2 separate regions of the Homo sapiens genome follow, and region 2 is linked to region 1. A link means that fine-mapping ties the variant in region 1 to the expression of a gene that starts in the linked region. Tissue or cell type: nasal epithelium. Region 1 holds a variant in brackets; the other region holds the start of a gene. All regions are shown on one strand. Distances are between the middles of the regions.

Region 1 (4,000 bases):
AGCTCGTCTTTCACATTTTTGATAATGTTCTTTGCACAACGTGCTCTCTTTTTCTGGAAGTGCGGAAAAACATATCCTTTGGAAATATCTGTGAACTTGCATAAAAGCAGTCCTCACTGCAGCTTACACCATTGCTTATTTTTATATTTGCATTTTATTTTCCTTTTTAAATACATGGATTGTTTATTCTCATAGCTCTCTACCTGAGGGCTCAAGCAAAGCATTTGGCTGCCCTTTCAGTTAAAAATATTCCGATCCTGTAGAAAATAGTAGTTGATAATACAGTATTTCAAAATTTAAAATTTCCATTGAGATGTGAATGAAATGAAGCATGATATTAAGAAATACATTGTCATTGAGGAACAGAAAACCACATACCGCGTGTTCTCACTCAAGTGGGAGCTGAACAATGAGAACCCATGGACACAGAGAGGGGAACAACTCACACAGGGCTTGTTGTGGGGTGGGGGGTGAGGGGAGGGAACTTAGAGGATGGGCCAATAGGTGCAGCAAACCACGATGACACACATCTATCTATGTAACAAACCTGCATATTCTGCACATGTATCCCCCCTTTTTTTTTTAGAAGAAATTTCTTTTAAAAAGAAATACAGTGTTATTTTACCATTTTAAGTTCTACCCTTAGACCTAAAGTTGTTGAGGACTTTGATTGTTACAAAGGGAGATGAGTATGAATGGCCCCACCAAGACCATTTTGAAAAGAATATACTGGTGCTTTTTATTTTTGTACATTCATCTTGAAGACATTTAGTAATTAAACAAAAAACAAAGCTGATTTGTATATTTTTATTTTTCAGAAACTTACTCAAGTTTATAGAACTCTTCATGGAGCTTACACAAAAATTCTGGAAGTTATGCATACAAAAAAGAGACTTTTAGGCACTTTCTTCAGAGTTGCCTTTTATGGCCAAGTAAGTGTACTTGAATCCATAAAGTTTTCCTTTTTAAACATTCACCTTTGAATTACTAGTTTACTATAGCAGCTAGGAGTCTATCCAGATAGAGTGCCTATTACAACAGCAGGGAGCCTCTTTTGTATGTATAAAGTTCACTTTGGTTCTCATATCTAAACCCTTCAGGTCAGAATACAACAGAAAAGGTTTTGATTTCTGTCAGTTTCATTTTCTGTTAAGCTTTTTAAAGTACATATTAAATATATAGTAGTTAAAACTTTTAAATAAAAAACAGGTAAGTGTACAGGGAAGGAAAAAACCTAGTTTGGAAATCTTCCTCAGGCCATATGTTTATGTGATTATAAATTTGAAAATTACCAGGAATTTAAAAATTCTCATGTATTTGAAATTAAAAGGGTAAATACAAGCATGGGACTTTTAGTAATATTATTCAAAATTTATTTCAAATATATTATTACTAGTTATTTAGTAGATTTTCTTTAAATGTTGTGTTTGCTCATATTATTTATAAGTTATTATTTGTTTAACTTTATAATAGTCTTTTTTTGAAGAAGAAGATGGAAAGGAGTACATCTATAAAGAACCAAAGCTCACTGGCCTCTCAGAAATTTCCTTGAGACTTGTTAAACTTTATGGTGAAAAGTTTGGTACGGAGAATGTCAAAATAATTCAGGATTCAGACAAGGTAACACATACCCTACATGTTGAAATCATTATTTGTTAGTTCCAGGCATTGTACATTGCTCCTGACTTTTTCCTTTTTTAACTGGTAGAGAAGCATGAAAACAGAGCTTTCCAGATAATAAAAGAAAGAACAGGGGCTTTGGAGTCAGAGATACCAAGCTTCAAATCTCTACTCTCTGCCACTCACTAGCTGTGTGACCATGGGGAAGGTACTTAACTCTCTGTGCTTCATCGTTCTTAGTAATAAAATGGAGATAATAATAGTAGTATTTTCCTCATGAGGTTGTTGTATGGATTAAATGAGTTAATATATGGAAAGTATAATCACTTTCCTGGTACATAAAAAGCATTCACTAATAATAGCAAGCTAGCATGCTCACTAAAGGTTAGATATTATTGTAAATGCTATTGTACATCATGATTCTCCGTTACATCATGATTAAAATCACCTTGGGGCACACATTTTATTCTAAGATATCCTTAGTTCAGTAATAGTGACTGTAGTTAACATTTGCAATGAAATAGGTTTAGGAGAGATCCTTGAGCCTTGCTCTAAAGGTTATCCATCCCACTAGGCCCTGCCAAGGCATAGTGAGAAGGCTTATATTATAGCAAGAGAGGCCCTTTCCTAGGAAATGCATAGTTCCCTATAGACAGGATTTGGGGGAAGCACTGTAGGAATGCCTGACTGTCCTTAGTTGCCTTGGGTGTGCCCAGACTTAGAGCTGATTTTTAAGGGTAGGAAG[C/T]TCATATAAAGTTCAAGATTTGTATCCACAGTGATATTTACTGAGTGACTATGATATGCGCAGTGCTATGCAGAACACTTAAAAGCTAGCAGGAAGCATTACCAGAGTGAAAAAGCCCATGGCTATTGTAAAGACACTTCATTGTCTACCACGAAAATAATCTCTTCACTTTGTATACTTACATATATCTCTTGGAGATGACTTTATCTTAAACACATGCCTAAGACATTTAAAAATAGATTTGGTGGTAGTTTCAACGTAATATATGGCAAACACTCTCTACTTCTTTCCTTATCAGTTTCACTATTTTGTGTTGTTTCGTTGAATTGAGACAACAGAAGATTTTCTCCCCTTGCAGCCAGATAGTGTAAGACTTGTTCCCACAATATTGATTACTGTATAAATGGAAAGGTAATGAAAAGTCAGACTTTCTGTGCAACATGCAGTTTTCTACCTTATTCTGCCTCTGAAAACTGGGCCAAAGAATGCTAGCGACAAACCACTACAGGTGGCTGGACTCCTGATGTTTGTTATGTATCATATTTTAGTAGTTCCCCACAGGCAACAGACATAATAAGCAGTTCTGGCTTTTAAAATATATTTATTGTTTTCTCAGTTTGTGAAAATAAAAATTAAAAATATTCTTTTCCCTTGCCAAAGAACAAAATCTGCTTAAGGGCAAAGGCAATTTGAAGAGGAGTTTGGCAATATCTTCCAATATTTTAAATGTATGTGTCCTTGGACCCAACAATTTCACATTTAACATTTTATCTTGTAGATGTACACATATAAATGTATATGTTTAAAGTTGTTCACTGCCACAAAATTTATATAGCAAAAACCTGGAAGCAGTCTAAATGTCCATATGGTTAAAGAAATGGCGGTATTACCCATATAATGGATATAACCACCTAGACATTAAAAAGCATGAGAGATTTGTAAGTGTCCATATGAATCTATCAAGATGTATATTTTTTTCTTTTCTTTTTATTTTATTTTATTTTTTTTTAGACAGAGTCTTGCTCTGTCACCCAGGCTGGAGTGCATTGGTGCCATCTTGGCTTACTGCAACCTCCGCCTCCTGGGTTTAAGCAATTCTCCCACCTCAGCCTCCCTAATAGCTGGGATTACAGTCGCTCACCACCACACCTGGCTAATTTTTGTATTTTTAGTAGAGCTGGGGTTCCACCATGTTGGCCAGGATGGTCTCGAACTCCTAACCTCAAGTGATCCACCCACCTCAGCCTCCCAAAGTGCTGGGATTACAGGCCTGAGCCACCACGCCTGGCCGCTTTTAATTTTTTTCGAGACAGGGTCTGGCTCTGTCGCCCAGGCTGGAGTGCTGTGGCACGATCACAGCTCACGGCAGCCTTGACCTCCTGTGCTCAAGCGATCCTCCCACCTCAGCCTCTTGAGTAGCTGGGACTACAGGTGTGCACCACCACACCTGGCTTATTTTTGTTTCTTGTGGGGTTTTTGTGTGTGTGTGTGTGGAGACGGGGTCTCACTATGTTGCCCAGGCTGGTCTCAAACTCCTGGGTTCAAGCAATCCTCCTGTCTTAGCCTCCTGAATAGGTGGGACTACAGGTGTGTTACCACCATACCCCAGCTAATTTTTTTATGTTTCTTAGAGAC
Region 2 (4,308 bases), 50 kb after region 1:
CCACACTGCCGTTTGTTTTTTTTCCTCACGATGTTCAGATTCTCAGGGCTTTTCTGGAAGCTCATGACAAGCTGCAATCCCTATTTTTCTAATCATTTGCTACCATTACTGTTTTATTAAGCGCTTGGTCAATCTATGCCAAGCAGTGCCCATGATGGCACTCAGCCAGTCCCCAGGGGCTCCTGTTCCAACTAAAGACTCCTTAAAAGGCAGATGACATAACCATTTTGGAAACGTTATTATAAACTTATTGTATAATGTTTATAGCAAATGTCAACAAGTGTATATGTCCGTGGTGGTGGAGGAAAGGCCTTGGGATACACAGTGGCTGACCTATTTGTGGGAGGGATTTAGAAATAATGATACTATCTCTCAGTTCTACAGGCCTTGATACTTTACAAACTGTTTTCATAAACATTATTTTGTTCGATAACACATGCAAGCCAGGATTTATTTTTTTTTTTTTTGAGAACGGGGTCTCACTCTGTTACAGACCCAGGCTGGTTTTGAACTCCTGGGCTCAGGTGATCCTTCCACCTCAGCCTCCAGAATAGCTGGGATTACAGGTGCATGCCACCATGCCTGGATTCTGGAATTTATTCTGAACCGTTAGCCAAAAGAATCAACATCCTGAGATTCAGCACAGGCAGGCCCTCCTCCTGGAAGCTTCCCTTGCTCCTTCCCTCCCAAAAGGTACCCTTTTTGTATCCCATAATTCCTTGTTCTTGCCCTTATCATTGCCCCTCAGACTGACTGCAGCTTTCTGTTAGCAGAGCTTGCTTTTGGTGAGTGTCTTCAACAGTTCCTGGAACAATTTCATAAATATTTATTGAGTTTGAGAGCCTTAATTCCAAGAGTGGAACCTTTGTTGTGAATAGGTTAAACAACCCTGTGCCCTTTGGGTGGGGTCTAGACTAGGTATATTATCAGCATTTTTATTGCTATACTTTTTGTAACTGTTTTCAGGTATATGCATTGGCTTAATTCGGCCAAAATACACCTCATTATGGGTCTCATCATCCACCTAGACATGATTCTTTTTTGGGAGAAGGTGATAGAATAATGTCCCCCTCCCATGATTCCATATCGTGATCCCCAACACCTGTGAATATGTTAACTTACATAGCAAAAATGACTTTTCAGTTATGATTAAATCAAGGATTTTGAGATGGGGAGATTATTATGAATTATCTGGTGGACCTAATCTAATCACAAGGGTATTTATAAGGGAAAAGGGGAAGTAAGAGGGTCAGAGTCAGATACGACAAGGGAAGCAGAGGTCTGAGTAGTTCCGCAACAAGCCAAGGAATGTGGGTAGCCTCTAGAAGCTGGAAAAGTCAAAGACACAGATTCTCCCCTAGAATATCCAGAAGGAATACATCTCTGCCCACACCTTGATTTAAGCTCAGTGTCACTTCTGACCTCCAGAACTGTAATAAAATAAAACTGTTAAATCACTAAATTTGTGGTCATTTTTGACAGCAGCAACAGGAAACGCCTAAGGACTCTTGTTTTCCTTCCTCCCAGCCTCACTGACCCTCATAGGCGCCCAAGTATCAATGTGTATTCTTCCGATTCACCTCCCATCCCTTTGAAAAATATGTAGAAAGTTTGTCGTGTGCTTTAAAAAATGCACGTATGGTATCCTCCCTCATGTTTGGAATGTTCCTTTTAAAATCAACATTATGTATTGCCAGCTTTCAAATATGCCCTTTGTCCTTTTCACAAAGCACAGTACTGCCAGTGTCCCCAACTCCACCCAGTGAAGTAGGGCTGGTATTACTAACCCTGGAGTCAGCGCTAGCAAACAAGGGCTCAGAGGTCAAGGGCTGGAAGCCAGGTCTCCAGACTCCCAGGCCAAGGCTCTTTTCCGCAGATGACTCTGTCCTGGTGTCCAGCAGGGCACAGCCCCTAGCACCTCCGAGGCCCCGCAAGTGTGCTGGCAGCGGCGACGCCGGCTCCGCCACGCGGAGGGAGGAGGCCCAGGCAGCGCCCGGAGTGGGCGGCGACGTGGTGGAAGAAGTTTTGTTCGGTCAGAGACCGGACGCGGGAGCTGCGGGTGGGCCAGGTGTCCAGCCTTGGGAGCCGTAGGAGCCGCCAGAGCCGCCAGAGCCGCCGGCGCCCCGCCCCGCCTCCTCCGGCCGCTCTCGCCGGCTCAGGTTACCTGAGGCCGGTGGGCGGGGCGGCCCTTCCCGTCTGCGCCGGCCCCCAGCCTCCAGGGCGGCGGAGCCGGGAAGTGGAAGAGGGAGCGAAGGAGGCGGGGACTGCCAAGGCTCCAGCCCGGCCGGGCTCCGAGGCGAGAGGCTGCATGGAGTGGCCGGCGCGGCTCTGCGGGCTGTGGGCGCTGCTGCTCTGCGCCGGCGGCGGGGGCGGGGGCGGGGGCGCCGCGCCTACGGGTGAGTGCGACCCTCGGGGCCCGAGGGGCGGCCGGAGGGCTGAGGGCGGTGAGGGTCACGGCTGAAAGGCCCCGGAGGTCAACGCCGGGCGGAGGGCCGAAGCTGGGGTGGGTGCTGGGGGCTGCCCTCGCGAGGCCCCGCGCTCGGCGGCTGCGGCTTCCCGCGCGGGATCTCTGGGGCCCGGTACTGGGGCCGGTTCGAGGTGGGACCCGGGAGCTGCGGGGTTTTCCCGAACTCCGGGTGCGGCGGAGGTGGCGGCAGCGAAGTAAGAGGGCTGCGACTTGTAGTGGGAAGAGCCCAGGAGGCTGGCGTCCAGGCGTGCGGGGGCGGGGGGCCCGAAACATGCCCACGGCGTCAGAGGGCCGTGGGTCAGCGCCCGGAATGTCGCCTGTGAGCCCGGGAGGAAATGAGGCGCCAGAGCCGGCGGGGACCACGACCGAAGTCCAGGCGAGCTGAGAACGCGCCGGGGCTCTTTGCCCGAGGCCGCGCCAATCCTCACTGTCTAAGGGTGGCTCTTGCGAGTGGAAGTTGAAGGGAACCTCTAAACATCTCAGTCCTTGTTGAAAAAGGACGTGACGCTCATGACCTCCTCTGGCGTCGAAGAAATCCTTTGGGAAATCCAGAATAGCATCCCGGCAGATGCTCCCCCCACCCCACTCTCTTTAATAAACCTTATATTTTAGGGTAATTGTAGATTTATGGAAAAGTTGCAAAGATACTTCAGAGAGTTGTGTATATCCCTCACCCTGTTTGGTAACTTCTAGTTAATCAACCTGGCAGTTGTGAAAAATTGGGAGTTAATGACTTCCTTAGGAGCAGCTCCTGGAAGGAATGGCCTTCTGGACGTTTTTGGTGACAATGAAAGCCCCAAACTGTATAGGTTTTATTATCACATTGACACAAACACTTATATATGCTTATTGCATTTTTACCAATGTGCTTTGAAATCCAAGTTGAAATGTTGATTAGGAAACCTTAATGCCCTCTATGGATTCAGTCAATAAAATACATGCTGCCAGGCAGTGTTTAGGGGCTGAGGATGCAGCAGTGAGCAAAACAGATGAGGTGCCTGCCCTCAGACATATCGGGGGGTGGGGGTAAAATATATGATATGTCTGAGGGTGTTAAGTAGAGAAAAACAGAGCAGGTGGGAAGGGGTTTGCCATTGTAAAAAGGGTGGATCGAGAAGAAAACAAATGTTGCTGAAAGGTGGCATTTGAGTAGAGACCTGAGGGAGACTTGAAGCTTGTCAGTCAATAATTATTCAGGTGTCTGCCTTATTTAGTACTGAGTCAGGCCCTCTAGGTTGACTTAGAACCTGAGAGTGTATAGCAAAATTCTTGCCCCAAAAGGGCCTCTAGTTTAGTTGGGTACACCTGATTTCCGTAATCATATGGGGACATTGCAGTCCAGAGAAGGGAAGGAACTTGTCTAAAGTTACCCGTCTCATTAGTCTCCTGATTTTCACAGTGCCACTCCAGCACCCTCCCTCCTACAGACTCACTCCCACACACACCTGAAACAACAGCTGGCCATCTAGAGAATACTGGCAACTCCCAACTTCATCAGTCCTGTCACAATGGTTTGTCGTTAGCTTGCTTATTTAGAAAACAAACTTCTTTCCCCATTAAAAGTATTGATAGAATTGCATTGAGGTATGGTGGGAAAAAATTAGATGTTTCCAGTGAGACTTGAGTTTTAGTGGTTCTGATATTTACCACCTGTGGGACTCTGGGCTGGTCATTTCCTCTCTTTTGTGCTGCAGTTAGTTTTCTCATCTGTGAAATGAGGAGGTTGAACTGCATAAATTCTAAGAGCTCCTCCAGCTCTAATCCTCAGAGTGTTTATAAAAGTGATTAGATTACTAGCTTAGTTTAACCTGTCCCACTCAATGGCCCACATTGTGGCATGT

What was found. PIP is the estimated chance that this variant, and not a neighbour inherited with it, causes the effect.
Region 2: it holds the start of IL13RA1, and the variant in region 1 is fine-mapped to the expression of IL13RA1 in nasal epithelium (TOPMed, PIP above 0.99).

The regions. Positions count from the first base shown.
Region 1 is chrX:118,675,118-118,679,117 of GRCh38, forward strand. DOCK11 (dedicator of cytokinesis 11) reads left to right here. Exons shown (of 53, transcript NM_144658.4): 47 at 819-932; 48 at 1,474-1,620. Among named protein-coding and RNA genes, the nearest start is that of IL13RA1, 50 kb to the right of the region's middle. The variant C/T (reference allele first, on the strand shown) is at 2,366.
Region 2 is chrX:118,725,331-118,729,638 of GRCh38, forward strand. It overlaps IL13RA1 (interleukin 13 receptor subunit alpha 1), which reads left to right and starts at 2,276. Exons shown (of 11, transcript NM_001560.3): 1 at 2,276-2,396. The coding sequence starts at 2,309. RefSeq lists a silencer at 1,885-2,314.